Linked DNA regions of Homo sapiens. The protein of the gene in region 1 purifies or fractionates together with the protein of each later gene. This does not show direct contact. Each region holds a gene or a part of one and is shown on either strand. Other genes may lie near its edges. The genes, in order: ERAL1, FAM120A, COL1A1, MCAT, ATAD3A, FASTKD3 and ZER1.

Region 1 (4,630 bases):
TCTTCCCAGGGAATTTAGATACCATAATTTCCACCCTCCCATCCTATGGATACCAAAATCTGCTGATTCTCTTGTAGTAAGAGATGACTTTAAGTCATCTTAAAGTCTCTAGATTACTTATAATATCTAATACAATGTAAGTGCTATATAAATAGTTGTTATACTGTATTGTGTTGTATTTTTGTTGCTATTGTTATTTTAGAGATGGGGTCCCTGAAATCCCGTGATAGAGATTTCTGTCTGTTTTGTTCACTGATGTATTCCCAGCACAGGACAGAGCTTGCTAGTGGATGCTTTATACATCTTCCTCCATAGTCAGGCATGTTAGCATGTGCCTGTAGTCCTAGCTACTCAAGAGGGCTGAAACTGGAAGATCGCTTGAACCCAAGAGTTTCAGGCTCCAGTGAGCTATGATCATGCCACTGCACTCCAGCCTGGGTGACAGAATGAGCACTGACTCTAAGAACCTTCCTTCCTCAACACCCCCTCTACCAAAGTTTATCTCTGTTTCTTTTTTTTTTTTTTTTTTTTGAGATGGAGTCTCGCTCTATCGCCCAGGCTGGAGTGCAGTGGTGCAATCTCAGCTCACTGCAAGCTCCGCCTCCCAGGTTCACGCCATTCTCCTGCCTCAGCCTCCTGAGTAGCTGGGACTACAGGCGCCCGCCACCACGCCCGGCTAATTTTTTGTATTTTTAGTAGAGACCGGGTTTCACCGTATTAGCCAGGATGGTCTCGATCTCCTGACCTCGTGATCCGCCCGCCTCGGCCTCCCAAAGTGCTGGGATTACAGGCGTGAGCCACCGCGCCCAGCTCTCTGTTTCAAGTGTTTGATTTAGAGGCTACAAAGGATGAAGAGGGCTCAAGGCCTCAAACAGAGCAAGGTAAATGAGTTTCTCCGGCTGCTAGAGCGGTCTAGGAGACCTTAGGTGGCTAAGCCACTTCTTCCTCCTTTGCAAACCCTCTGGTTGTTCTCCATAAAGGAATGACCTCAGATAGTAGACAGTAGCCAAGGCTTACAGGAGGGAAATCCAGACCTGCTCTTCATCCCAAACACCGACCCAAGGACCACTCCTTCCAGGAACCTAGCCTAAAGCAAAGGTGCAGACAGCCCGGGGCCACCGCTGACCTCTAGGGCAAGCCAAATTAAGGCTGGGAGAGGATCCTGCAGGCCAAAGGATGGAAAGGACTAGGAACAAACAACAACAAAACCCTTACGGGGACAGGCGGAACAGTGCCCCCTCCCACTCCCACAACCATTCCTCCCTCGATGGGAGGACGATTTCTGCTATTTGGCCTCATGGGAAATGTAGTCTTTTAGGAGACATGGCCAGAAGGGCCGTTTACAAAACTTTGGCAGAAGAAAAAAATACGTTGTGTATGGGAGTCCAAAACTACCGTCATGCTTGCACAGACTCTAAATACACATTTTCCCCTTTCCTTAGCCTCCACCAGTCTCCAGAGCAATTCCTCCTCCCGCCCACATCCCATGTGTCTCGGCTTTCAATTTGGGCAGACCTACCTCTCTCCTACTCGCTGGTTCGTCAGCCGCTCTGTTCAATCGTAGGAGCGCTCCTGGTCGGTTCCCGCAGTGCCTTGCGGCTGTAATGGCTGCCCCCAGCTGGCGCGGGGCTAGGCTTGTTCAATCGGTGTTAAGAGTCTGGCAGGTGGGCCCTCATGTCGCGAGGGAGCGGGTGATCCCTTTTTCCTCACTCTTAGGCTTCCAACGGAGGTGCGTGTCCTGCGTCGCGGGGTCCGCTTTCTCTGGTCCCCGCTTGGCCTCGGCTTCTCGCAGTAATGGCCAGGGCTCTGCCCTGGACCACTTCCTCGGATTCTCTCAGCCCGACAGTTCGGTGACTCCTTGCGTCCCCGCGGTGTCCATGAACAGAGGTAAAGCGCCCTGATAGGTTTGCTCGGAACTGTCATGTTTTTAGTATTGAAAGGTTTCTGGGGATACTGTCTTTGATTCTATTTTATAGAAAACAATTTTGAGGCCCTGACAGGGAGGAGCAGTGAAAAATCTCTCAGGAGAGAAATAACAGTTTGAGTGGGAGAAGGAAACGATCTGGTCACAACCAGAGACGCTCACTAAAGAGCATGAGATTGAAGGGCCACAAAGTGGAACTATGGCTCTGCACCCCGACATGGGAAGCAAATTTGATCCAGTAAATGCATGTTGGGCCTCATCTTCTTGTTAAGACACAGTTACACCTGGAAAACAGCACACTTTATTCTTCAAACAGTGTCCGGTATTGGAGACTGGACACAAACTGGTCATTGCAAAATGGTGTCATAAGAAGATAATATAAAAAGACTGGGCCCTCTCCCTTCTTGACCCTTAGCCCTTCCTCCCGTCCCTCCTTCAGGAAAAAAAAAAAAAAAGACTGGGAAAGCTTGCAGGGCCTTCATAGCACCCTTAGTAGGGTGAGAGAATGAGAGCTGAGGAAATATCTGGCTTTGTGTAATCCAGCTTGCTTTCATGTACATTCACTTCTCAGGCACAGCTATACATTATAATTACATGCAGTAATTATTAAGTGCCAGGTATTGTGCTGAGTTGTTTTACACAATTGCTAGTCATCAAAAAAATTATAAGCTGGTAAGTAGGTACTGTTAATATCAACTCACTTTTACATATGAGAAAACTAAAGGGCTCAGGGAGTTACTTTATAAATTAATGTAAATTAAGGGCCAAAGTCTCAAAGTCAGCTCTAGGTGACTTCAACCTGGTGCACTAATTTTGTACCCCTGCTCCCTTTGTGGGTGGGCAGGAACAAGCACTTGACAGGAAATCCAGATTCCACTGTGTCTCATGCTTCTTCCCACTTGCACATAGATGAGCAGGATGTCCTCTTGGTCCATCACCCTGATATGCCTGAGAATTCCCGGGTCCTACGAGTGGTCCTCCTGGGAGCCCCGAATGCAGGGAAGTCAACACTCTCCAACCAGCTACTGGGCCGAAAGGTATGCTACACCCTTGACCATCCTACCCTTTACATCTTTTACTTCTTGCCATGCCTTCAAGGATGGTCTTGGAGGGATCTGGGACCTCACTGAGACTCCTTTGTTCCTGGCAGGTGTTCCCTGTTTCCAGGAAGGTGCATACTACTCGCTGCCAAGCTCTGGGGGTCATCACAGAGAAGGAGACCCAGGTGGTGGGTACCTACAAAGGGAGTCCTTGAAACAGGACAGAGGGTGAAGCTAAGAGGGTCTCCCTTACCATCAGCCTTGAAGAAAATGATGGTCACATTCATTTATGTGAGGAAAGGGGGTTTCTTTTCTTTTTCTTTTTTTTTTTTTTTGAGATGGAGTCTCACTCTGTCTCCCAGGCTGGAGTGCAGTGACGCGATCTTGGCTCACTGCAAGCTCCACCTCCCAGGTTGACGCCATTCTCCTGCCTCAGCCTCCTGAGTAGCTGGGACTACAGGCGCCTGCCACCACACCCAGCTAATTTTTTGTATTTTTAGTAGAGATGGGGTCTCACTGTGTTAGCCAGGATGGTCTCGATCTCCTGACCGCGTGATCCGCCTGCCTCAGCATCCCAAAGTGCTGGGATTACAGGTGTGAGCCACTGCGCCTGGCCAGGAAAGGGGGTTTCCTCTTCCTTTAGGCATGGTACAGTTCTGTCTCTACCTTGCCCTCCCCTGACATCTAGTCAGAAAGATTTCATTCTCTCGCTCTCTTTTTTTTTTTTTTTGAGATGGAGTTTCACTCTTGTTGCCCAGGCTGGAGTTCAATGGCATGATCTCAGCTCACTACAACCTCTGCCTCCCGGGTTTAAGCAGTTCTCCTGCCTCAGCCTCCCGAGTAGCTGGGACTACAGGCATGCGCCACCACGCCCGGCTACTTTTGTATTTTTAGTAGAGATGGGGTTTCACCATGTTGGCCAGGCTAGTCTCAAACTCCTGACCTCAGGTGATCCGCCTGCCTTGGCCTCCCAAAGTGCTGGGATTACAGGCATGAGCCACCACGCCCAGCCGATTTCATTCTCTGTTTACTGCTTCCTAATCTTCCTTATATTCACAGTCATCATCTTTCTCCCAGATCCCATCAAAGCAGAATGGTAGAAACCTAAGGTCAGCCTGGGCGCAGTGGCTCACGTCTGTAATCCCAGCACTTTGGGAGGCCAAAGCAGGCGGATCACTTGAGATCAGGAGTTCAAGACCAGCCTGGCCAACATGGTGAAACCCTGTCTCTACTAAAAAAATACAAAAATTAGCCGGGTGTGGTGGTGCACGCCTGTAATCCCAGCTACTCAGGAGGTTGAGGCAGGAGAATTGCTTGAACCCGGGAGGCAGAGGTTGCAGTGAGCTGAGATTGTGCCACTGCACTCCAGCCTGGATGACAGAGTGAGACTCCGTCTCAGAAAAAAACAAAAAACAAACCTAAAGTCAATAATAGTTTGACTGAGAAGGGAGGGCAGGCTCCTGACATCACAGGTAGCCTCTCTCTGACTTCCCAGTCATAATCTTTTCTCCTGGGGTCTGGGTATCTCACTTTCCTGATTTTAGATTCTACTTGACACACCTGGCATTATCAGTCCTGGTAAACAGAAGAGGTAATGGTGGTGGAATTGGGGTGGATTGGCGGGGAGGTACTGAAAGAGGGTGGGGAGATTCCATTATAGGGGCTG
Region 2 (3,898 bases), on another chromosome or scaffold:
TTCTAGGGACTGGGAGGATGGGATGCTGGAATACCAAGCATGACTCTATGGTGGTAGAGGGTGTAACTCTGAAGTGAATGATCATGAAGTTCAAGCTAGTTACAGCTAAAAAGGAAGCCAACAGAATGGGAAAAGAGAAATGGCGGAAGGCAAGCAGGGGACAGACGGTGGGAGCGGCAAGGAGTGACAGGGACACAGCGTTCAGAAGTGTTAAAGGTGGGGTCACTTTTCTCACTAATTATACGGTCCAAGCTCTGGAGTATCTAAAGTGCAATTAGAAATTCACTCCAGTTGCAGAATCAGGATGCCAGATGAGAGAGGTGAAGAGTCAGTGTCTGTGTTGATGGGACACAGTATAAATAATATATAAGAATGTAAAACCAGGTGCTGAAGTGTTTGAGGACAGTGAGGCTGTGCCTTGGAAATGGTGAGATGTCAAATAAACATGTGGGTTAGCACTCACCTCAAAATATGTAATATTGAGAAGTATATAATGAAGAATATACTATGGAAGTGGCCAAGAGGATTGTGGCATTTAAGGAAACATCATATTGCAGTAACCCCAGGAAATGGAAGCATTTTGATCATTGAAAAAGGTTCAAGGAGGCAGACAGGAAAAGACAGAGTGGTTTTTGATAGGTTTAATTTTAAAGTAAAAAAAAAAAAAAGGAAGAGATTTAGATGACCATGATAATTGTTGATAAAGATCAGTGCTCAAATAACAAATTGGTGGCACAAGAGCTGAAGCTAACTTAGAACCAAGTTTTCCTTCGCTTGGCATTTTTAAAATGGAATAATTTTTTTAAAAATCTGGGTTTCTGGCTTTCTTGCAAAGTCTGAAGTTCTGGTAATGTTGACTCTATGGTCCTACGTGGCTTTTAAAATGTGCATACCTTTAGCTCTACTGTGTGTATATATCATGTGTATACCATCTGTCGGGGTTGGATAAATTATGGAATACTATTTAGGGACTGAAAAGACTTAGAGCTCTAAGTATAGACATGGAAAGATTTCTTACAAATAAAAAAGCAAACTGCTGAATAACGTATAGTGCAATCACATTAATGTGAAAAAATGGAACTATATTATAATAATATATATTATATAACTTATGACATAAAATATATGGCCTACACAGCCACTGTGGAAAATATATGGCCATTCCTTAAAAAGAAAAACAGAATTACCATATGACCCAGCAATCCTACTTCTGAGTATATACCCAAAAGAACTGAAAGCAGGAACTCGAACAGCTCTTTGTATACTATGCTCATAGAAGCATTATTCATTATTCCCAATAGTCAAAAAGTGGAAGCAACCCAAGTATCCACCAGTGGATGAATGGATAAACAAAATGTGGTACATATACACAGTGGAGTATTACTTAGCCTTAAAAGTTAAGGAAATTCTGACACAATCTACAACATGAAAGAAGCTTGAAGACATTATGCTATGTGAATTAAACTAGTGACAAAAGTAGTACAACAGAGAAATATATACAGTGACTAGTTTGAGGTATAATATGGTCAGTTTTGAACCTTAAAAATCTTCCAGTCAATTAAAGGTCCTTAAGAATAAGATGTACTGTCAGTGTCCAGGATCTACTGATGGACATTTTTCTTCTGAATAGCAACATGACTGTTCCTATCCTAACTAGAAAACATAGCTGAAGCAGTTAGCTATCGTAATTGACCTGGGGGTGAGAATTGTAGGTAGGCACACCCACAAAGTATTCTTACACAAAGAAGCTGAACTTTGACTTTAGCACTCCACTTCCGTCTTGAGGTTACTAATGACTTGTCCCCAGATGTCACTTAATCACTAGATCCTGTTTTTACACATGAAAAATGGGGTAACAAAGCACTCTGAGGATTAAATGAGATGGAATATGTGAGAAAGGATCTAGCAAGCACCTGGTCTGATACCAGTTCATTCTCTTCCCCCATCAAGTATACATGAAGGGAGACCATCATCTCTAAATACAAACATGTAATTATGCTAACCATGAAAATTCTAAACCATAGTCTAACCTCACATTCTTCCACTGACTTATAGCATGAACGCCATTTTATGTAAGAGCATTATTTAACAAAATTCCAATGGAAGCAAATTCAGAAGATCTGAAGGACTTTATTATAAACCCTTACACTGATACCACAAGTCATATAGCAGAAACATTTATGAAAGCTCCAGTGACTTCATGCCACTAAGATTTTAAAATAAACATAAGTCATTCACTGAAGTTTCAAAGGTTATAATGACCCAAGGCACACAAGAAGAAACACTGTCCAAGTAACTAGCTAAAGCCAAGTTCAAATTAGGCTATTTTAGGACCTACACAAAACTAGTCAATACATAGGCCAAAGTATTATTATTTTCATTGTTCTGGCTGTCTTTCCATGTAGACCAACTTCTAATGGTTAAAGAAATACAATTACTACTACTGAACAAAAAAATACAATTACTACTCTGTAAAAGAAATAATCTCTAAATCAAAAAAGATTTCTCCTGGCCAGGCGCAGTGGCTCACGCCCGTAATCCCAGCACTTTGGGAGGCCGAGGCAGGTGGATCACGAGGTCAGGAGCTCAAGACCAGCCTGGCCAAGATGGTGAAACCCCGCCTCTACTAAAAATACAAAGATTAGCCAGGCATGATGGCAGGCGCCTATAATCCCAGCTACTAGGGAGGCTGAGGTAGGAGAATCGCTTGAACCCAGGAGGTGGAGGTTGCAGTGAGCCGAGATCGCGCCACTGCACTCCAGCCTGAGAGACAGAGTGAGACTCCATCTCAAAAAAAAAAAAGATTTCTCTAAGCAAAGGTAACAGGAAATTATGCCCCTCTGCCAATTTACAAAACACTAGAAAGCACCAATAAGATGCTTAAAGTTTTTATAAATGTCTCATTTACTCAACATTATATATACTGAATTGTTCATGTCAATTCCTTTGCCAGTGGTTTTTACTTAATCTTAAAAAAATTATCATATGATAAAATTAACACATTTACTTTGGATGAATAGTTCTGATTTTAATGTATGGTAGCATCACCACCATCAGAATACAGAACAGTTCCATCACTCCACAAAGATCTCTCCTGCTGTCCCCTTTATGTGTACATCCTTCCCCTCCTCTACTCTCAGCACCACTGAATTGGTCCCTATCACTATAGTTTTATAATCATCCCTTTTGAACCTGGCTTCTTTCACTCAGTATAAAACCTTAATTAAATATTCATGCAAGTTGTTACCTACACCAGCAATTCCTTCCTTATTATTGCTAAGTAGTATTCCATAGTATGGCTATACTGTAGTTTAACCATTCACTTATTAAAGGATACTTTGTTTCCACGTTTGGGCTATTATGAATTAAGCTGCTATGGACATTTGAGTACCAGTTTTTGCACAAACAAAAGTCTTCATTAGGAAAATACCCAGGAGTGGAATTGCTGGATCGTATGATAAATGTATGTTTAACTTTATAAGAAAGTGCCACTGTTTTCTGGAGTGGTGGTGCCATTCTGCATTCCCACAAGCAATGTGTAAGGATCCAGTTGCTCAGCATTCTTGCTAGCACTTGGTATTGCTCATATTTTTTTCTCTTTTAGCCATTCTAATAGGCATGTAGTGATATCATGGTTTTAAACGTTTTAACCACTTTATGGGTATCTTTTATTAAATGGTATACACTGTTTCAATCCCTTAAACAGAGAATGCTGAATATTAATTTTTATGACTCAAAATCATCCTTATAGAATAAACATTGTACTACCCTCAGGGACCAAGGAAGTACATAGGGTTGTTTTCCTTTTCTTAAAATAGCCCCAGAATTATGTTTGCTTTTTATAGCTTTTTAAATCTCTCTTGTCACTTCTTGCTATTAATGGTGCTCCTGCCTCTGG
Region 3 (3,500 bases), about 21 Mb from region 1:
GGCGGGACCAGCAGGACCCTGGGGAGAGCAAGGAAAGCATGAGCTCTTGGCCAGGGAAGGCTGAGGCTGGGGCTGCAGGATGAGGCCTCCCCTCTGCTGGATCTCTCTCTCCTCAGCTGCTTCCCACTGTGGCCATCTCTCCCAACTCCCAGGGAAACCTCCCCACTGCAATCTTCACGGGAGCTGGGGCCAACTCATGGGAGAGGCGGTCCTGTCTGGGAGAGGGGACTTGGGGCTGAGCTTTAACTCAGTTTTTTGGATTAAGGCCCTGACATCTTGCAGGATCTCCTTTCCTCCCCCTGCCTGGGTGAAGTCCGACACCCATCCCCAGGCCTCTAAGGAGGCCTGAAGAGTCCCTGGCCTGACCAGGTACAGGGAACTGGAGCCCAGCTACTTACAGTCTCACCACGATCACCACTCTTGCCAGCAGGGCCAACGGGGCCAGGGGCACCAGGAGCACCAGGAGCACCAGGGGGTCCAGCGGGGCCGGTCTCACCACGGTCACCCTGGCGGGGAGAGCAGGGGAATATGGGTCAGCCCCGGGTGAAGGGCCAGGATGGGGCAGGGAAGCAGCAGACAAGGCTGTGGTCATGGAGTGTTGCCATCTTACCTTGGCGCCAGGAGAACCGTCTCGTCCAGGGGAACCTTCGGCACCAGGAGCCCCCTGCAGAGAGAGAGAGAGAGAAGTGAGAGTCAGCCGGGGAAGAGGGCTTAGGCAAGGCCACAATGGCCATGCTGAGGGTACTGGCATGGGGGCTGGGGACTGCTCACCTCACGTCCAGATTCACCAGGGGGTCCAGCCAATCCAGGGGGGCCCATGGGACCAGGGGGACCACGTTCACCACTTGCTCCAGAGGGACCTTGTTTGCCAGGTTCACCCTAAGGGAGAAGAAAGAGTCAGGCCAGAGATAGGGTCTGGGAGGACCCTTGAGTCCGCTGGAGTCATCTCTACCAAATCTGTTCTCCTTGGCTCCGCCCCACTCCAAGTCCTGTGATGGTTTTTCTCAGGGCCCCCCAAGGTGAGGGGGGCACTTACAGAGGGGCCAGGAAGACCAGGGAAGCCTCTCTCTCCTCTCTGACCAGGCAGGCCGACCACACCACGCTGTCCAGCAATACCTTGAGGCCCGGGAGTACCAGGAGCACCCTTTGGGAGGCAAACAGGGGTGAGGTGCCAGAGAGCAGCACAGGGACCCCTCCCCAGCTCTGCACACCTCCGGAGCTGCAGAGATCTGAGCTGGCACTTACAGCAGGACCATCAGCACCAGGGGATCCTTTCTCGCCAGCAGGGCCAGGGGGACCAGGGGGACCAACTTCACCAGGACGTCCAGCAGGGCCAGTCTCACCACGGGGACCTTTGCCGCCTTCTTTGCCAGCAGGACCAGGAGGGCCAGGGGGTCCAGCATTTCCCTGGATGAGGATAGGAGGGGCTGTCAGACTCCAGGGGGCTCTGGTGCATCATTGGGTCCTCAGTCAGCCCCACCATCCTTCTGGCAGCCCCCACCCAGCACCCCCAACCTAGAGCAGTGGACTCTGCTGCAGAGACTTACAGAGGGGCCAGGAGGACCGACTCGGCCAGCAGCACCAGGGAAACCAGTAGCACCCTGGAAGGAGAGAACATAGGAACAGTCAGAGGGAGAACAGCCAACTCATCCGACCCAGCTGCCCTCACCTGCCACCGCTGCCTGGGGAGAGGGGAGAGGCTCAACAGAGAGGCGGGTGATACTCACAGGGGGACCAGCGCTGCCGCGAGCACCTTTGGCTCCAGGAGCACCAACATTACCCTGTAGGAGAGCACAGAGGCATCAAGCCTGGACCCGTCCTGGGTCCCAGCCCACCAGCCTCGTGGGCACAGAGGGCCAAGCCACTCACAATGGGGCCAGGGGGTCCAGCGGGTCCGGCAGGGCCAGGGGGACCAGCATCGCCTTTAGCACCAGCATCACCAGGTTCGCCTTTAGCACCAGGTTGGCCGTCAGCACCCTGGGGGAGGAAGCAGGGCGGTGAATGGAGGGAAGGAGGCAGGAGTTTCCACTACCTGGGGGAGGAGCAGTAATGGAGGCAGGAAGATGCTTGGGTGGGAAACAATCCCGTCTCCACCCTTCTCCCCTGAGGATGGCTGACGCCTTTGTCCTCATTCCGTCCCTCGAGGTCCCAGGTCCCAGTCGGTGATGAAAAATGATGGGGGTCTTGGTACTCACAGGGGGGCCAGCAAAGCCAGCAGGGCCGGGGGGACCAGGCTCACCACGGTCTCCCTAGAAGAAAAGGAGTCAGATTGGAGAGATGCGCTGACAGGAGGGAAGGCGGGGATGCGGTGAGGGGAGAGGCAAGGGGTGAAGGCACAGACAGGGCCAGGGGTGCTGTGTGAAGGGAGGGAAGGGCCAAGTATGGGGTCTTAACAGGTCTTCTGTACTTACGGGGGCACCACGAGCTCCAGTGGGACCAGCAGGGCCGCTGGGACCACTTTCACCCTGAGAGCAAGGGACAAGAGGCTCAGGGTCAGGGCCTCCCCTGAATACTCCTAGTAGATGACCCCAGGAGAGCCTCCCCTCCTTCTGGTCCCTCCAGGTTCCCAGGTTGACAGCTCAGTTTGGCAGGACCTGCTCTCCCAACGCAACCCCACGGAACCGTGCCCAGGCCTGCTGAGGAGGCTATGTGTTAGGGCAGAAGGTGGGGAGGCGGCCACCTCACCTTGTCACCAGGGGCACCAGCAGGGCCAGGAGGACCAATGGGGCCAGTCAGACCACGGACGCCATCTTTGCCAGGAGAGCCATCAGCACCTTTGGGACCAGCATCACCCTAAAGACATGGATAAGCTTGAGATTTCCAGTGTGGGGCAAGGAGGTGACCTATAGTGTTCTGCTTGTGTCTGGGTTTCCTGAGAGGCCCTCTGCAGCTCTGCCCTGCCTCCACCTGGGCCAAGGACTCAAAGATTCTTTCAGGAAAAAGGGTGCCTGCCTGGAGACTCAGGTGGAACTGAGGTTAAGAGGCCCCTGACTTGTGTAGCGGGATGAATAAGGGAGCCTCCACCAAGGAGATGCCCCCACCTCTCATCACCATGGTAACCCATGGGGATAGATGGGCCTGGACCACAGGGAGAGGATTCATCAGCAAAAAGGCCAGAGGGGAAAGGGGAAGAAGGGAGGATTAGCGAGAAGAGGGACAGATCCCAGAGAGAAGGAGAGATGCTGAGAGATTCAAAGCAGGCAGAGATGGGAGCCATGTAGGGCTCAGGGGAGGGGGAAGGTTGAACTTACTCTGTCACCCTTAGGCCCTGGAAGACCAGCTGCACCACGTTCACCAGGCATTCCCTGAAGGCCAGGGGCGCCCTGGCTACCGGGAGCTCCAGGGGCACCAGCATCACCCTATGTGACAACCAAGAAGACTGGAGTGAGGCCTGGGGCCCCAAGAGTGGGTCACAGCCCTAAGCCCCGCTTGGTATCTCCCAGGCTTGTTTCCAAGGCCAACGACAAGCCTTGAGAAAAGATGAAAAGACTCACAGCCCA
Region 4 (4,639 bases), on another chromosome or scaffold:
ATTTTGTGTATGTGTGTGTGTGTGACAGGGTGTCACTCTGTCACCCAGGCTGGAATGCAGTGGCACGATCACAGCTCACTGCAGCTTTGACCTCCTGGGTTCAGGTAATCCTCCCACCTCATCCTCCCAAGTACTCGAGCTGGGACTACAGGCGCACACCAACATGCCTGGCTAATTTTTGTATTTTCGGTAGAGATGGGGTTTTCACCATGTTGCCCAGGGTGGTCTAAAACTCCTGGGCTCAAACATCTATCTGCCTCTGCCTCCCAAAGTGCTGGCATTACAGGTGTGAATCACTGCACCCAACGTAATTTTTGTTTTTTGTTGGGGGCAGAGATGAAGGTCTCACTATGTGGCCCAAGATGGTCTGGAACTCCTGGCCTCAAGTGGTCCTCCTGCCTTGGCCTCCCAAAGCACTGGGATTACAGACGTAAGCCATGGTTCCTGGCCAGCAAAAATCTTAAGAAGTAAAACTGATATGGCTCCAGATCCAATATTTATTTACTCTTTAATTCAACGAATATCTACTGAACACATACTCTCGTGTTGCAGGTGCTGCAGGTATGAGTGCACAGGATAGCGGGTTAGACAGTTCAGCAAGCAGATTTCATGAGATTACAAAAATAAGGGAAATCCCTAATGAATCCTTCAGTCTTGAAAAGGAATCACAGCAAAGCCCTGTCCTCATGTGCCAATGTCACCCCTGTCCATGTGCTCCCTTCCCATCACCTGAGTGGGTCCAGTATCATTTTTGGCAGTGTCCCTTACCCCTAATGAGCCCAAGACCACAGCCTTGCATAAAACCAAACTCCTTCCTGTACCTTCAGCAAATTCCATGGCTCCGGCAAACACTAGGGCTGCAAACTCTCCCACACTGAATCCAGCAGCAGCAACACAGTTCTCAATCACCTGTGGGGACAGATGCAGAACGTGAGCCCTCACTCTCCTGGGGATCCCAGTTCCAGGGCTCTGTACCTGAGAGCTGGCGGGGTGTTCAGCATCTCAGTGAGCCAGGTTCTACGAACTTGGTGCACCAGCTGGAAGAGGACACACAAAAGTGACCTTGACAATCATTGAGTCCTGCCCCTTTATTTAGGAGGAGCTTTCCTGGTTAGTTACAGTCCATCAACTCCGTCCATGGTCACACTGACGCCAACCCAGGGCTCTGGATTCCCTTGCCATGGCCCTGCAGCAGGCTCTCAGGCCATATCGTTGTGCACAAGTTAAGAGCATGACTTTTTTTTTTTTGAGGCGGAGTTTTGCTCTTGTTGCCCAGGCTGGAGTGCAATGGCGTGATCTCGGCTCACTGCAACGTCCGCCTCCCGGGTTCAAGCAATTCTCCTGCCTCAGCCTCCCGAGTTGCTGGGATTACAGGTGTCCACCACCACACTTGGCTAATTTTTGTATTTTTAGTAGAGACGGGGTTTCACCATGTTGGCCAGGCTGGTTTTGAACTCCTGACCTCGTGATGCACCCACCTCAGCCTCCTGAAGTGCTGGATTATAGGCATTATAGGCGTGAGCCACCTCGCCCGGCCAAGAGCATTTTTATCTCATCTGTGAAATGAGGGAAGAACAGGGCCTACCCCAAAGGGCGGATGAGAGAATTATGTGAATATAATGTCTATACAGTGCTTAGCACAGACCCAGACTAGGGTAAGCAGTGAATGAATATTATGATGACGATTCAACAGGACCACTTAACTAATTCTTTTAATATCCCTGAGTCTGCATTCCTCAACCATCAAATAACAGTATTAACCTCACAAGGTGGTGTGAAGGTGAAATAGGGTAAAGGATCTCAAGTGCTAGCTTAACATTTACCGTCTTATTAAATATTAATAGCAATCAATCCACCACCTTCAAGTGAAGTGACATTCTCAACTCATCTCAATGTTCCTTCATTTAGGCCAGTGCAGTGGCTCATACCTGTAATCCTAGCACTTTGGGAGGCCGAGGTGGGTGAACCTGGGAGGATTTAAGTAAAGAATAAAAAAATTAGCCGGGCGTGGTGGTGTGCACCTGTGATCCCAGCTACTGCGGAGGCTGAGGCAGGAGAACTGCTTGAACCTGGGAGGCAGAGGTTGCAGTGAGCCAAGACTGCGCCATTGCACTCCAGCCTGGGTGACAGAGCAAGACTCTGTCTCAAAAAACAAAACAAAACGGGCCGGGCACGGTGGCTCATGCCTGTAATCCCAGCACTTTGGGAGGCCGAGGCGGGCAGATCACGAGGTCAGGAGATCAAGACCATCCTGACTAACACGATGAAACCCCGTCTCTACTAAAAATACAAAAAATTAGCCGGGCATGGTGGCGGGCGCCTGTAGTCCCAGCTACTTGGGAGGCTGAGGCAGGAGAATGGCGTGAACTCGGGAGGCGGAGCCGAGATCGCGCCACTGCACTCTAGCCTGGGCGACAGAGCGAGACTCCGTCTCAAAAAAAAAAACAAAAACAAACAAAAAAAAAAACTCGATCGAATGAGTAAGACGTGGGAGCCCCCGGAATGGCAGGCGGAAGCCTCTGGCAGGGCCAAGAGCTCAGGCAGAGCTCACCTTCCCCCTCCTGTCACGGGGCCTCGGGCCTCACCGAGGGCTGCAGGTGATGTAGTTTCTCGACAGCGGCCAGCGATGCCACGAAGATCGCGGGCTGACAGTGCACGGTGCGGTCCAGGGTCTCCTGCGGCCCGTGCAGGCTCAGTTCCAGCAGGTCGTAGCCCAGCACGCGGCGGGCGGCGGCGTAGAGTTCGCGGACGCGCGGGTAGTTGAGCAGACCGCGGCCCATGCCCACCACCTGGCTGCCCTGGCCCGGGAAGAGCAGCACGGAGCACTGGCCCGGCATTCGCCGCTCCGTCGCCGCCCAGGGCGCCTCCTCCTCCGCCCCGGTCGCATCTCGCAGCAGCTCCGCTACACCCTGGGCGCCCGGCGGAGGCACCGGGAAGCTCGAGGCGCCGCGGCGGTAGCTGGCGCCCAAGCCCCTGACCCACGCTACCCGTGCGACCCGGACGCTCATGGTCGGACACCTGCCCGCGCGCGTTACCGTGGCGACCGAGGCCCGACTGCGGCGGCGCGGCGCAGCGTGGTCCCTGACGCATTTCCTGCCGGGGCTTCCGGGGCACCGGGAGCGGGAAGAAAGGTTCCGCAGACGCTGGTTCCGCCCCGGCTCTGAGGCCCTTCGGGCTGCGTTCTGGGGTCCTGGAGGGACTCATGCGTTTACTTAAACAGCCATAGCCGTTGAACGGAACACGATGCCACACCACAGTGGGTCCTCAACAGATATTTATGGAATAAATAACGCAACGCAATGTAGTATTTACGCTTTCTACCTGGCACATGAAGAGCACTTGAAACTCTTCCACATTGATGGTTTTTGTTGTTGTCGTTGTTGTTGTTTGTTGTTGTTTTTTGAGACGGAGTCTTGCTCTGTCGCCCAGGCTGGAGTGCAGTGGCGTGTTCTTTGCTCACTGCAACCGCCGCCTCCCAGGTTCAAGCGATTCTCCTGCTTCAGCTTCCCGAGTAGCTGGGATTAACAGGCGCCCGCCACCATGCCTGACTAATTTTTGTATTTTTAGTAGGGACGGGTTCACCATGTTGGCCACGCTGGTGTCGAACTCCTGACCTCAGGTGATCCACCCGCCTCGGCCTCCCAAAGTGCTGGGATTACAGGCGTGAGCCACCGCGCCCGGCCAGCAACCACATTTCTTGCATATGATCCTCCCAACCACAGGAGTTGGCATGGCCGACCATCCGTTGCCAGTTCCCAACTATACAACAGCTCTCTTTTATAATGTTTTCTTACAAACCACACAGTGCTTGGCACATAATAAGCATCCAATAGATCTTTATGCTATTGAACAAAGCCTTGAATGTGTTTCAGATATTAGCTTATTTAATTCCTCACAGCAACGCTGTGATGGATAGCTGCTCAGAGATTGAGTGACAGGTGGTTAGTGACAGAATGGAGGTTGGAAATTGGGGTTATCTAATGTTAACCTAAAAGCAACTCAAGAGACACAGGCTCGGCCAGGCGCAGTGGCTCATGCCTGTAATCCCAGTACTTTGGGAGGCTGAGGCAGATGGATCACTTGAGGTCAGGAGTTCAAGACCAGCCTGGCCAACATGGAGAAACCCCGTCTCTACTAAAAATACAAAAATTAGCTGGGCGTGGTGGTGGGCGCTTATAGTTCCAGCTACTCGGGAGGCTGAGGCAGGAGAATCCCCTAAGCCCGGGCAGCAGAGGTTGCAGTGAGCCGAGATCCCACCACTGCACTCCAGCCTGGGTGACAGAGCAAGACTCCGTTTCAAAAAAAAAAAAAAGGCTGGGTGCGGTGGCTCATGCCTGTAATCGCAGCACTTTGGGAGGCCGAGGCGGGCAGATCACCTGGGGTCAGGAGTTCAAGACTAGCCTGGTCAACATGGTGAAACCCCCTCACTACAAAAAATACAAAAATTAGCTGGGCGTGGCGGCACATGCCTGTAATCATAGCTACCTGGGAGTCGGAGGCAGGAGAATTGCTTGAACCCAGGAGGCAGAGGTTGCAGTGAGCCCAGACTGCGCCATTGCACTCCAGCCTGGGCAACAAGAATGAAACTCCATCTCCAGAAAAAAACAAAAAACAAAAAAAATATATATATATACACACA
Region 5 (3,549 bases), on another chromosome or scaffold:
TGCTCGTAGCCCTGGCACCATGACTTGGCTTCTGTGGCCTCCAGGCAGACGCTTTTGCTAGAAGTCGGGGCTCCGCCACTGCCAGCATAAAGGCCACCTGCCCTGCGGGTGCTGAGTGAGCAGCTGTGGGCAGGGCTGGTGTGAGGAGTGGTTGGGGCCATCTCCAGGCCCTGCAGCCACTCCCTGCTCAGTCCGGGCCTGGCCTGCAGCAGGGAGGATGTGGAGCTGGGCTGTCAGAAGTAGAGAGCCCCTCCAAAGAGGATGTTTGGCGTGGGTGTCGGCCTCGCTGCCTGTCTTCCGGCCTCCACCTCGTGTTGTGGGAGCTGCTGCCTTGGCCGGCCCACTTGGGAACTCCTTCCCCAGGCGCCTGAAGCTGGCCCAGTTTGACTACGGGAGGAAGTGCTCGGAGGTCGCTCGGCTGACGGAGGGCATGTCGGGCCGGGAGATCGCTCAGCTGGCCGTGTCCTGGCAGGTGAGTCAGGCTCCGGCACGTCCACCCAGACGGGACCCCAGCTGCTGTGGAGATGCTCAGTTGCGCCAGGCCTGTCCCAGCACCGGTGTCACGCGGGAGCTTCTGTTGAGGGGTTTTCAGTGCACAGAGGTGACACAGGGCCCCCTGCCCCAGTCAGGCCACTCCACGAGGCATCGCGCACCTGCTCGTGCCCTCAGGAGGGTGGAGCCATGTCGGTGGCTGACAGTCACCCGGGGCTCTCTGGAGGCCAGTCTGGCATCGCCGTAGCCCGAGCTTTGCCAGGTGGGGCTGGAGGCTTCTGACTCTCACCTTGGCCAATAGGCACCTCCCTGTGTAAATGGTCGTTAGGACAGGCCCCATGTGAGTTGGGGGTTCGGGGTGGAGGGACATTGTGTTTTCTGGACCAAGTCTGTGGGCTTGGTCCTGCTTGACACATGGGTGGGAGTGGCCTCTGGTTGTCCCACAGCCAGTTGTTCTTCGGGGACACCCCTCCTGCAGCTCCGTGGCTGCTCCAGGGCTGAGGAGCCAGGACTCACAGGAGTGTGGGCGTGGCCATCCAGAAAGCTTTGGTCTTTGGGGGTTGCTGGAAAAGCAAAACCAGGTTGGTGGGGCAGAAGGCACCCTGGCCACGCACAGGCATCACCACCTCTGGGGTCCGCAGAGTCTGTGTAACAACCTGGTTCCTCAATCTAGCAGTGCTTTTGAATGAACGTGTGACAGCTTAATGAAGCAGCCGAGTACCTTGATTTGAATGTTGGAGCCGGGGTTCACAGGGGGCTGTATTAGTCAGTACAGGCTGGGTTATGCCACTGTGACAAAGAGCCCCAGATCTCAAACCCCGTCCTTGTGGGTCAGCTGAGGTCTCTGTTCCAGGCCATCCCCACTTGGAACCAGGTCTGTTTCCACAACTAAGAAAGCAGAGGCCGGGTATGGTGGTGGCTGACGCTTGTATTCCCAGCATTTGGGGAGGCCAAGTTAGATTATTTGAAGCCAGGGGTTTAGGACCAGCCTGGAAAGCAAGGCAAGACCCCATCTCTACAAAAAATGAAAAAATTAGCTGGACCTGGTGGCACATGCCTGTAATGCCAGCTGCTTGGGAGGCTGAGGTGGGAGGATCACTTGAGTCCAGGAGGTGGAGGCTGCAGTGAGCTGTGATTGCCACTGCACTCCAGCCTGGATTACAGAGCAAGACCCTGTCTTAAAAACTAAGAATAATGGCCGGGCGCGGTGGCTCACGCCTGTAATCCCAGCACTTTGGGAGGCCGAGGCGGGCGGATCACGAGGTCAGGAGATCGAGACCATCCCGGCTAAAACGGTGAAACCCCGTCTCTACTAAAAATACAAAAAATTAGCCGGGCGTAGTGGCGGGCGCCTGTAGTCCCAGCTACTTGGGAGGCTGAGGCAGGAGAATGGCATGAACCCGGGAGGCGGAGCTTGCAGTGAGCCGAGATCCCGCCACTGCACTCCAGCCTGGGCGACAGAGCGAGACTCCGTCTCAAAAAAAAAAAAAAAAAAAAAAAAAAACTAAGAATAATTTGGAACGAGTGCGGTGGCTCACTCCTGTAATCCCAGCACGTTGGGAGGCTGAAGTGAGAATATCATACACCTGAGGTCAGGAGTTTGAGAGCAGCCTGGCCAACAAGGCCAATCTCACCTCCACTAAAAATACAAAAATTACCCCGGCACATTTGTGGTGTATGCCTGTAGTCCCAGCTACTCAGGAGGCTGAGCCAGGAGAATCTCTTGAATCCAGGAGGCGGAGGATGCGGTGAGCTGAGATGGTGCCACTGCCCTCCAGCCTGAGCAATAGCGTGAGACTCCATCTTAAAAAAATAGTAATAGGCCAGGTGCAGTGGCTCACACCTGTAATCCTAGCACTTTGGGAGGCCAAGGCGGGCAGATCACGAGGTCAAGAGATGGAGACCATCTGGCCAAATGGTGAAACCCCATCTCTACTAAAAATACAAAAATTAGCTGGGTGTGGTGGCGCATGCCTGTAATCCCAGCTACTTGGGAGAATGAGGCAGGAGAATCACTTGAACCCGGGAGGCGGAGGTTGCAAAGAGCCGAGATTGCACCACTGCACTCCAGCCTGGCAACACAGTGAGACTCCATCCCAAAAAACGAAAACGAAAACTAAAAATAATAATAACTGGGGCTGGACGGGCGCGGTGGCTCATGCCTGTAATCCCAGCACTTTGGGAGGCCGAGATGGGCGGATCATGAAGTCAGGAAATCAAGACCATCCTGGCTAACACGGTGGAACCCCATCTCTAATAAAAAATACAAAAAAAAAATTAGCCAGATGTGGTGGCGGGTGCCTGTAGTCCCAGCTACTTGGGAGGCTGAGGCAGGAGAATGGCATGAACCCGGGAGGCAGAGCTTGCAGTGAGCCGAGATCGCACCACTGCACTCCAGCCTGGGCGACAGAGCAAGACTCTGTCTCAAAAATAAAAAAATAAAAAATAAAATAATAATTTGGGCTGGGCACGGTGGCTCACACCTGTAACCACAGCACTTTGGGAGGCTGAGGCAGTGGATCTCCTTGAGTTCAGGTGATCTGCCCCCTTTGTCCTCCCAAAGTGCTGGGATTACAGGTGTGAGCCACCATGCACGGCATCTTGAATTCTTTTCTCATAAAAGGGTTTTGAATTTGGTCGAATGCTTTTCCTGCATCAGATGAGAGGGTCATGTAGTTTCCTTCCTCCACTCGGCTAATATTGATTGATTTTTGTATGTTGAACATTTTTTATGTGGAACATTGATTGATTTTTGTACGTTGAACTATCCTTGCATTCCAGGAATAAATCCTGCTTGGTCAGGGTGTATAATTTTTTTATTATACTCCTGAATTGGTTTTGCTGGCATTTTGTTGAGGACTTTTCCAACGATGCTTATCAGGGATATTGGCATGTCATTTTTCTTGTGGTGTCTTTGTCTGGCTTTGATATGAGGGTAATGCTGGCCTCTTAGGATGAGTGAGGAAATGTTCTTCAATTTGTCCAAGAGTTTGAGGAGTGATACTGATTCTTCTTAATGTTTTGTGAATTCACATGTGAAGACATCAGGTCCAGGTC
Region 6 (4,037 bases), on another chromosome or scaffold:
CAAATTTCCGGAACTCCATAGTTAAAGGAAATTTCCACTAATTCTGTGAACATATTTTATCTCTTTTAATTGTATTCTGTAGCTAGGAGCTTGGGTTCTTGGAAGTCAATTTCATTGGTGGCAAGAGGAGGGCATAATTAATTCTAACAAGTTCATTTCATAGTGTCATTTAAAAATAGAATACTTCTGTCTGGAGTGTGTAAATTGATGTTGAATGTTCATGATGTTCTCTCATACATACCTCAATTCAGACGTAACTATGACTGGGATGCTTTCTGTTTCAGGTAAAGAATCTCATTTGGACACATTGAGTCGGGCACAACTGACCCAACTTTTCTTAGCCTCAGTCCTGGAATGCCCTTTCTATAAGGTAAAAGCATGAACTATATGTGGCTTTATTTCCCCATGGGTGCAGTTTCCTTTTAAGTTCCTTTACTTCTGATCTGTCTCAATAACCTGAAAAAGCAGAATTTCATTTACTTGGAGTCAGTTGCCACCAGATAGGCTTTTCTTTGATAAATGGACCCCATTTTTGTGTTCTTGTTCTTGAAGGAACAATTTCCTGCTGTTTAAGATTTCTTAGGAGGTTTTATCAAGTGCTGCAGGCATGTGAGTTACAGTATTTCTCCATTCTCTCTGAAGGTTTTACAGGGTTTTAGTACTAGGTTTACTACTAGGTTTCCCATAGCTGTTTGTTATCAAAGTGTGAATGTCTGGACTGAACAAATACCTAAATTATTTGCAAGTACAGTATATTTTTAAGCCAAGCCAGAAATTTCACTTTTATCTAATAGAGTTTAGTTTATCTAGAGTTCGCTCTTCCCATAAAGACCTATAAAGATTTATCCTATTACCTATCACATTCCTTATGTAGAATCAGAAATAGCACACCAGACTATGACATTCTCTCTCTGCTTCTCTCTACTTGACTCTGAATCATAGTTTAGAGTATCTGATTTTTGAAATAAGGTAATAAGAATGGAAAAATACCCCTTTTTTAAAACAGCTTAGACAGTACTAAGTTATATAAAGATAAATAATAGTTAACCCCGATCTCTTACCATTTCTAAAGGAACAGTATTAAAAGCAGTTTCTACGCCCAAATGTATACAGATACATAAACACTGTCTATTTTTTTTCTCTTTTCAAGGAATGAGACTCACTAATCAAAGTACAATTTGCTTTTATGCGCAGTATATCATGGCCATCCCTCGAGGCCAGTGCATACAGATCACATGCATTCTTTTTAGAAAGGCATGATATTTCATGGTGTTTATTCTACTATTGATGCACTTGGAGGTTTTTGCAACTTTTGTCTCTATCGGGAATGCTATAATAAACATTCTTGCAAATCCTGTCATACTAGAGCCTTTTTGGTTTTTTTCATATATAAACTAGATTCCCAAAAATGTGATTAGTGGATTAATTTTTGATGGATACTGGCAGATTTTTTTTCCCTAATAGTTACAGATGTCACATTTCCCCAGCAATGAATGAAGGTGGCCATGTCTCCTCCACTTCTATTGCAGTGTGTTAGTAGTCTCTTTAATTTGTGTTACTCAACTACATGAAAGAGGATATCATATCATATATTTAAGTTGCATTTTAATGAGCATTAATGAAGTTTAGCATATTTTCAAATATGTGTTGGCCATTTACATTTCTTTTGAATTGCCTTTCTACACCTTAATTTATTTCTGTTGGATGGTTTGTCTTTAAGGACTCATTGTAAAACAGATATTAACTATTATGAATGTTGTACATATTTTCCCGATTTGTACTCTTTTATTACTTTTTAATATTACTTATGATGTATTTTTAAATGTTCTGTAGTCGAATCTGTCTTTTATGACTTCCGAGGTTCCTATCTCAAGAGCATGAATATTTTACATTTTTAAAAATAATATCTTTTAAATTTTATTTAGATCTTTGATCTAAAAGTAAAATTGAATTTTTATTTATGTATTCTAATTAACAAAAATTGTATATACTTATTATGTTCATGTTGTTTTGAAATATGTATACATTGTAGAATGGCTAAATCAAACCAATTAACATGTGTATTACCTCCATATCTATCATTTTATTTTGTGGTAAGAATATTTAAAATGTACTCTTGCCGTGCGCAGTGGCTCATGCCTGTAATCGCAGCACTTTTGGAGGCCAAGGCGGGTGGATCACCTGAGGTCAGGAGTTCGAGACCAGCCTTGCTAACATGGTGAAACCCTGTCTCTACTAAAAATACAAAAAATTAGCCGGGCATGATGGCACACGCCTGTAGTCCCAGCTACTCTGGACTCTGAGTTAGGAGAATCGCTCAACCCAGGAGGCGGAGGTTGCAGTGAGCCGAGGTCGCGTCATTGTACTCCAGCCTGGGCAACAAGAGTGAAACTCTGTCTCAGAAACAAAAACAAAAACAAACAAAAAAAAAGGTAAAAAAGTACTCTCAGCCATTTTCAAGCACGCAATCATTCTTATTAACTATAGTCAGCATGTTGTACACCTGGAATTTATTAGCATCTGTCATGGATGACAGAAGTTTAATTTAGTTATTTTCCAAATAAATAACCATTTTCTCCAGCATCGTTTATTATATTGCTATCCTTTTCTTCCTAAACTGGAATGTCATTTATATCACATTTTCCATTACAGATTGAGTATCCCTTATCCAAAATGCTCAGGACCAGAAGTGTTTCAGCTTTCAGATTTTTTCATATTTTAAAATATTCTCATTATATTTACCAGTTCAGCATCCCTAATTCAAAAATTTGAAATCCAGAATGCTTCATGAGCATTTTCTTTAAGCAGCCTGTCTGTGCTTAAAAGGTTTCGGATTTTGGAGCATTTTGGATTTTGGATTTTCAGATTAGAGAAATTAAACCTGTGTTGAAAACTTTAGTTGTGTGTACTTAAGACCCTTGGGACAATTCTCAGTTCTAAAAATGTTTCTTGAACTGTTAGCATTATTATGTTTCTTCTCACTCTCTCCTCACTCCTTTTTACCTTCCTTCTTTACTTTTCTTTCTGTTTATGGTAACCAGTGACTACTGTAAAAACACATATAAAAGACATTTTGAACTATTAGACTTGCACTGTAAGAAGAGAAGTTTGCATTATCATTTTGAGAGAGATGCCTGTCCCAATTCCTGGAAAAGTATCATGCCTATAAAGTAATGTTATATCAAACTTTTCTACCTAGGTAACCTTCAATTTATTCTCTGTTGTTATATCTTATTTTTCTTTCTCACATTTGCACTTATGATTTTTTAGGGTCCAAAACTCCTTCCTAAATATCAAGTGAAGTCATTTCTTACCCCATGCTGTTCCCTGGAGACCCCTGTGGATTCTCAGCTTTATAGATATGTGAAGATTGGGCTGACTAACCTTTTAGGAGCAAGATTATATTTTGCTCCAAAAGTGTTGACACCCTATTGTTATACAATAGGTAAGTAGTATAAGGAGTTTTGTTGTTTTAAACCTAAGCATCCTGTTCGATTTTGGAGATATATGGGACTTAGAAGCAATAGAAGTTCTCTGGAAATGCAAAATGGAATGGTCCCTTCCCTGAAGGCAAGTTGGGGTTAGCAGCAGAGCCGTTGAGTCAAGACTGTCTGGGTTTAAGTCTCAAATATTAGCCACGTAGTAGCAGAATATCCTGGGCAGAATATTTAACCTTTTTCTGCTTGCTTCTTCCTCTGTAAAATGATAGTAATATTGACCTCAAAGACTTACTTAAGGTCTAAATAAAATAGTACCTGGAACGTAGGAAATGCTCACTAATTGTTAGCTACTACTATAACCTAGGCTTGTACTGTCCAAATATAGTAGCCACTAGACCATGTGGCTATTTAAATTTAAATTATTAAAAGTTTAAGAAAATTCAATTCCTCAGTCACATTGTAAGTGCTCAGTAGCCACATGTGGCTCATGGCTGCCAAATTGGACAGCACCATTATAAAGATTTCCACATCACAGAAATTTCTCCTGGACAGCACTGACAAGAGACTCCAAGTCCTCCGTCCTTACAGTTCTTCTAA
Region 7 (4,037 bases), on another chromosome or scaffold:
TCTGTAAATAGGGCATTTGTTTGGGTTTTCCCCCCAGCTCCTAGGTTAATATTTCACAGGGTGAGTACTGCTCCAAGGCTCAGAGCTTCTGGCTCCCCCAACCTCTCTGTCCTCTGGGTATCAGGACACTGGTGGGATCCCATGCTCCCACCTCCAGACTTCAGTTTCTCTTTCCCTCCCATTGTTTGGATGGATGGACTGAAGACCAAATATTTGGTGAGAAGCGGGGGTCTGCTTTAGGTTTGCATCCCACTCTCATCAGTTTTGTGATCTCAGGCAAGCTTCTGCTTAGTTGTGTATGCGTCAGTATCTTCATCAGAAAATGGGGTAATAATCTCTATCTTGCAGTACTAGAGTAAGGGAATTCCAGCCACAGCAAACCTTTGTTCTATTAAACACCAGGCATAAATTGGGCACCGAAGTCAGACACCAAGGATACAGGTGCGTGCGCGCTTGCGCACGTGTGTGTGTGTGTGTGTGTGTGTGTGTGTGTGTGTGTACATGTGCATGGATGCAGGCATGCAAGCAAGCATACAGCTTCTGTCCTCCCAGAGCTCACAGGCAGTAGGAGGGTGTCAGTTGACAAATTGTTATGTAAATGATTAATTAGTTGCAAGTACAGGGTACTAGGAAATATTTTGTCGGTTGAGTAAGAGACTCGAGGGAGTAAAGCCTGTAAGGAGCTTAGGACCACATCTGGAAGCAGCCAACATGGACGTGGTATGGCGGTGCCTTCTGCTGCTGCTGCTGCTGGTGCTGTTTTTCTCTCTCTTCTCTCCCACTTCCTTCATTCCCCAGGATGTCGAATGTTCATGATAGACCTAGTATTAGAGAACATGCAAGAAAAGGGATGGAGAAAGACACAGGGTTCTCCCAGTGTGGTGGTCGGTCATAACCAGAGCTCCCTCTGTCCTCAGTTGCTGGAATTCCAGATGGCCTGTGACTGCCCTGAGAATGACAATCCCTAAGGAATGGAGTAGGTAGAGTGGAGTAGGTAGAGATGGCTGCCTCTGGCAGGTGCCAGGCCCGCAGCTGGATGGGTCTCAGGGCATGGTAGCCCCGGGGCCCTTCAGTCTCTGTGCCAGGATGTAAGATGGCTGCTTCCTCTTCCAGCTCATTCCAGCCCTGAGTGGCAAGGTCAACACTGCTAAGGGGAGGCTAGCAGATGGCGCCATCTACCTGGCTTATGTTTTGGGGGCTTTTGGTGACCGTGACAACTGACGTGGTGGTGTTTCTTCCACTTGGGGAGCATGGTAAGGGCAGAGCAGCTGCCTAGGTAACTGGGCTCAGACCTGCAGAAAAGGCAAAACCCCAGTGGCTCTCCCTCATTCAGAGCCTCCGAGCCAAGAGGCATCATTTGCAGCCACTGGGCGCCCAGCAGTGTCCTGAGTGCAGCAAGCAGGGAGAATGCGAGAGTGTACTATACCTCCCAGGCCTCGTGCAGACCTCTGATGGCGAGTACTTTGTCATTCCTTCCACAGGCCTTTGTTGAAACCTCACCTTGTGGCAGGCCCCACATTGAGTGTTCAGTGCTTCCTTTGTTCATTTAGCAAATAGTCATGGACCTGGGCCCGTAGTGCCAACGTCCCATGCACCCCCTCTCCTTGCAGCTTAGGTACTTCTTTGCTTCCTCCCAAAGCGCCTTCCCCTTCTCTCCCCTCCACCAGAGTTAACTAGGACTTATCTTTTGGGTCCCAGCTGAAATGTCACTTCTTTTTTTTTTTTTGATGGAGTTTTGCTCTTATTGCCCAGGCTAGAGTGCAATGGTGTGATCTTGGCTCACTGCAACCTCCGCCTCCCGGGTTCAAGCAATTCTCCTGCCTCAGCCTCCCGAGTAGCTGGGATTACAGGCGTGCGCCACCAGCCCAGCTTATTTTTGTATTTTTAGTAGAGACGGAGTTTCACCATGTTGGCCAGGCTGGTCTCGAACTCCTGACCTCAGGTGATCCACCTACCTCAGTCTCCCAAAGTTTTGGGATTACAGGTGTGAGCCACTGCACCTGGCCTGAAATGTCACTTCTAAGGATACCTGCTCTGACTCCCCAGTCCAGGGCAAGTCCCCTGATTGGGCATCCAGAGCCCCAGGCCCCTTCTCCTGCAAGACACTGGTCCCAGTTACGCGACAGGCGCTTATGGGCCCTGTAGGTGGATCTGTCTCCCTCCGGAGCCAGTACGCTCCATGTGGTCAAGGACCTTGTCCGGCTCGCTCACCAAGGACCCCCAGTGCTCAGCAGGGACTGAGTGAGCAGGTCCAGGGAGGTGATACCAAACAAGACAGCCTGGTTTTGCCCTCATGGACCTGGCCATCCATCAAGGATGCTGAATCATCAAAGCCACATCGTACCAAGTGTTCATTGCTGTGGTAGATCGGGCCTGTGGGGGGACTCAGCAGGCACACCCTGGTGGGTTAAGCATGGCTTCCCAGAGGAAGTAACTTTGACACTGGGACCATAGGTATCAGCTACGTGAAAGGAGAGTTCAAAGATCATGTGGGCTGGAGTGGCCAGGAGATACTTCCTGGAGGAAGGACATGGAGTGTATTTGGGTAGGGGAGGGGAGAAGGCAGTATTTAAATTAGAAAGTGCAGTAATTAGTTGAATTTGGATGGTCCTGGTTGAAAGAGAACAGACTGGGCAAAGGTCTGAAGGTGACCTGTGCCGAGGGCCTTTTGCCAGGACAGTGAATGATGAGGCCAGGCTGGCTGGAGTAGGGGGGCAGTGGGGACCAAGTAGGCCAGAAAGCTGGCTGTAATTCCGGTGGGCTTGAAAAGAGTTGCTTTCCAAGAGTGGGGACTCTCTGCCAGCAGTGCTCCCTCTGGTTCCAGTTTCCCAGGCAAGAGAGGCTGCTGGGCTCTTAAAGATCTTGAAGCAAATGAAGGCAAAGGAAGGCCATGCCCGGGGCCCAGGCATCCTGGCTTTTGTGCCTTCCCTCGAGGGTGCCATGCTGCCAGTGGGACAGCTGACACAATGAGCCTTGTTGTGGGAGACCCAGGCCGGGGAGCACAGGCCCGGAGCTGGGAGCCAGGGCAGATGAGGTAGGAGAAGGTAATGATTATAACAACAACATAATAACGGTTGTCTTTATTGAGCAATGACTACATGCCAGACACCGTTCTAAGCCCTTTTGATATTATTCCATGGAATCTTCACACCGTGCTGGGGATGAGGTATTGTGCTGCTTCTATTTTAGAGGAAAAGTGACTGAGGCACAGAGAGGTGGAGACACTTGCCCAAGTTTGTCTCCTCGTGAGCAGCAAGGCTGAAATGTGAGCTATGCCTGCCTGAATCCACAGCCCATCCACACACAGTCCCCAGTAGACAGTGGTGCCACAGTTGAACTCAGAACTGGCTGATTCCAAAGCCCAGTGTGCCCTGTGGCTTCCCGCTGGATTTCCTGAGCAGTCTGGAAGGTTTACAAATGGGCACAGAGGGAGGCTCCCAGAAGCTGGGACAATGCTGGGCCCCAGAACTCCAGAACCCTCTAAGTCAGGGGTGTCCAATCTTTTAGCTTCCCTGGGCCACACTGGAAAAGGAACTGTCTTGGGCGACACGTAAAATACACCAACACTAACAACAGCAGATGAGCTAAAAAAAAAAAAAAGTCCATAAATGTCATAATGTTTTAAGAAAGTTTACAAATTTGTGTTGGGCTGCATTCAAAGCTGTCCTGGGCCACATGCAGCCCATGGACCACAGGTTGGACAAGCTTGCTCTAAGAGATGTGAGGGATTCCACGAGACCAGGTTCCAGTCTAGTTTACACAGCTCCCTCTGTTTGACCTTGAGTTTCCTCCTCTATAAGATGGGGTCAGCCGGGCGCGGTGGCTCACGCCTGTAATCCCAACATTTTGGGAGGCTGAGGCGGGCGGATCACAAGGTCAGGAGTTCGAGACCATCCTGGCTAACATGGTGAAACCCCATCTCTACTAAAAATACAAAAAATTAGCCGAGCGTGGTCGCAGGCGCCTGTAGTCCCAGCTACTTGGGAGGCTGAGGCAAGAGAATGGCATGAACCCAGGAGGCGGAGCTTGCAGTGAGC

Evidence for each region.
Region 2: the proteins of ERAL1 (region 1) and FAM120A purify together in Homo sapiens (co-immunoprecipitation; 2 studies listed by BioGRID and IntAct, with this or other methods). This does not show direct contact.
Region 3: the proteins of ERAL1 (region 1) and COL1A1 purify together in Homo sapiens (affinity purification with mass spectrometry; 3 studies listed by BioGRID and IntAct, with this or other methods). This does not show direct contact.
Region 4: the proteins of ERAL1 (region 1) and MCAT purify together in Homo sapiens (affinity purification with mass spectrometry; 2 studies listed by BioGRID and IntAct, with this or other methods). This does not show direct contact.
Region 5: the proteins of ERAL1 (region 1) and ATAD3A purify together in Homo sapiens (tandem affinity purification; one large-scale study listed by IntAct). This does not show direct contact.
Region 6: the proteins of ERAL1 (region 1) and FASTKD3 purify together in Homo sapiens (tandem affinity purification; one large-scale study listed by IntAct). This does not show direct contact.
Region 7: the proteins of ERAL1 (region 1) and ZER1 purify together in Homo sapiens (co-immunoprecipitation; one large-scale study listed by IntAct). This does not show direct contact.

What each region holds. Positions count from the first base shown.
Region 1 is NC_000017.11:28,853,431-28,858,060, forward strand, and holds the start of ERAL1 (GTPase Era, mitochondrial), read left to right. Parts: upstream 1-1,585; 5' UTR 1,586-1,604; coding exon 1,605-1,887; intron 1,888-2,833; coding exon 2,834-2,961; intron 2,962-3,074; coding exon 3,075-3,152; intron 3,153-4,508; coding exon 4,509-4,555; intron 4,556-4,630. UniProt on the Homo sapiens protein: Probable GTPase that plays a role in the mitochondrial ribosomal small subunit assembly. Specifically binds the 12S mitochondrial rRNA (12S mt-rRNA) to a 33 nucleotide section delineating the 3' terminal stem-loop region.
Region 2 is NC_000009.12:93,454,573-93,458,470, reverse strand, and holds part of FAM120A (constitutive coactivator of PPAR-gamma-like protein 1), read right to left. Parts: intron 1-3,898. UniProt on the Homo sapiens protein: Component of the oxidative stress-induced survival signaling. May regulate the activation of SRC family protein kinases. May act as a scaffolding protein enabling SRC family protein kinases to phosphorylate and activate PI3-kinase.
Region 3 is NC_000017.11:50,188,132-50,191,631, forward strand, and holds part of COL1A1 (collagen alpha-1(I) chain preproprotein), read right to left. Parts: intron 3,360-3,500; coding exon 3,252-3,359; intron 2,794-3,251; coding exon 2,686-2,793; intron 2,466-2,685; coding exon 2,412-2,465; intron 2,250-2,411; coding exon 2,196-2,249; intron 1,978-2,195; coding exon 1,870-1,977; intron 1,782-1,869; coding exon 1,728-1,781; intron 1,602-1,727; coding exon 1,548-1,601; intron 1,408-1,547; coding exon 1,246-1,407; intron 1,145-1,245; coding exon 1,037-1,144; intron 880-1,036; coding exon 772-879; intron 665-771; coding exon 611-664; intron 507-610; coding exon 399-506; intron 19-398; coding exon 1-18. UniProt on the Homo sapiens protein: Type I collagen is a member of group I collagen (fibrillar forming collagen).
Region 4 is NC_000022.11:43,140,341-43,144,979, forward strand, and holds the start of MCAT (malonyl-CoA-acyl carrier protein transacylase, mitochondrial isoform a precursor), read right to left. Parts: upstream 3,059-4,639; 5' UTR 3,009-3,058; coding exon 2,586-3,008; exon of another isoform or gene 2,552-2,585; intron 910-2,551; coding exon 822-909; intron 1-821. UniProt on the Homo sapiens protein: Catalyzes the transfer of a malonyl moiety from malonyl-CoA to the free thiol group of the phosphopantetheine arm of the mitochondrial ACP protein (NDUFAB1). This suggests the existence of the biosynthesis of fatty acids in mitochondria.
Region 5 is NC_000001.11:1,528,860-1,532,408, forward strand, and holds part of ATAD3A (ATPase family AAA domain-containing protein 3A), read left to right. Parts: intron 1-363; coding exon 364-472; intron 473-3,549. UniProt on the Homo sapiens protein: Essential for mitochondrial network organization, mitochondrial metabolism and cell growth at organism and cellular level. May play an important role in mitochondrial protein synthesis. May also participate in mitochondrial DNA replication.
Region 6 is NC_000005.10:7,862,231-7,866,267, reverse strand, and holds part of FASTKD3 (FAST kinase domain-containing protein 3, mitochondrial), read left to right. Parts: intron 1-284; coding exon 285-370; intron 371-3,270; coding exon 3,271-3,445; intron 3,446-4,037. UniProt on the Homo sapiens protein: Required for normal mitochondrial respiration. Increases steady-state levels and half-lives of a subset of mature mitochondrial mRNAs MT-ND2, MT-ND3, MT-CYTB, MT-CO2, and MT-ATP8/6.
Region 7 is NC_000009.12:128,761,675-128,765,711, reverse strand, and holds part of ZER1 (protein zer-1 homolog), read left to right. Parts: intron 1-4,037. UniProt on the Homo sapiens protein: Serves as substrate adapter subunit in the E3 ubiquitin ligase complex ZYG11B-CUL2-Elongin BC. Acts to target substrates bearing N-terminal degrons for proteasomal degradation with the first four residues of substrates being the key recognition elements.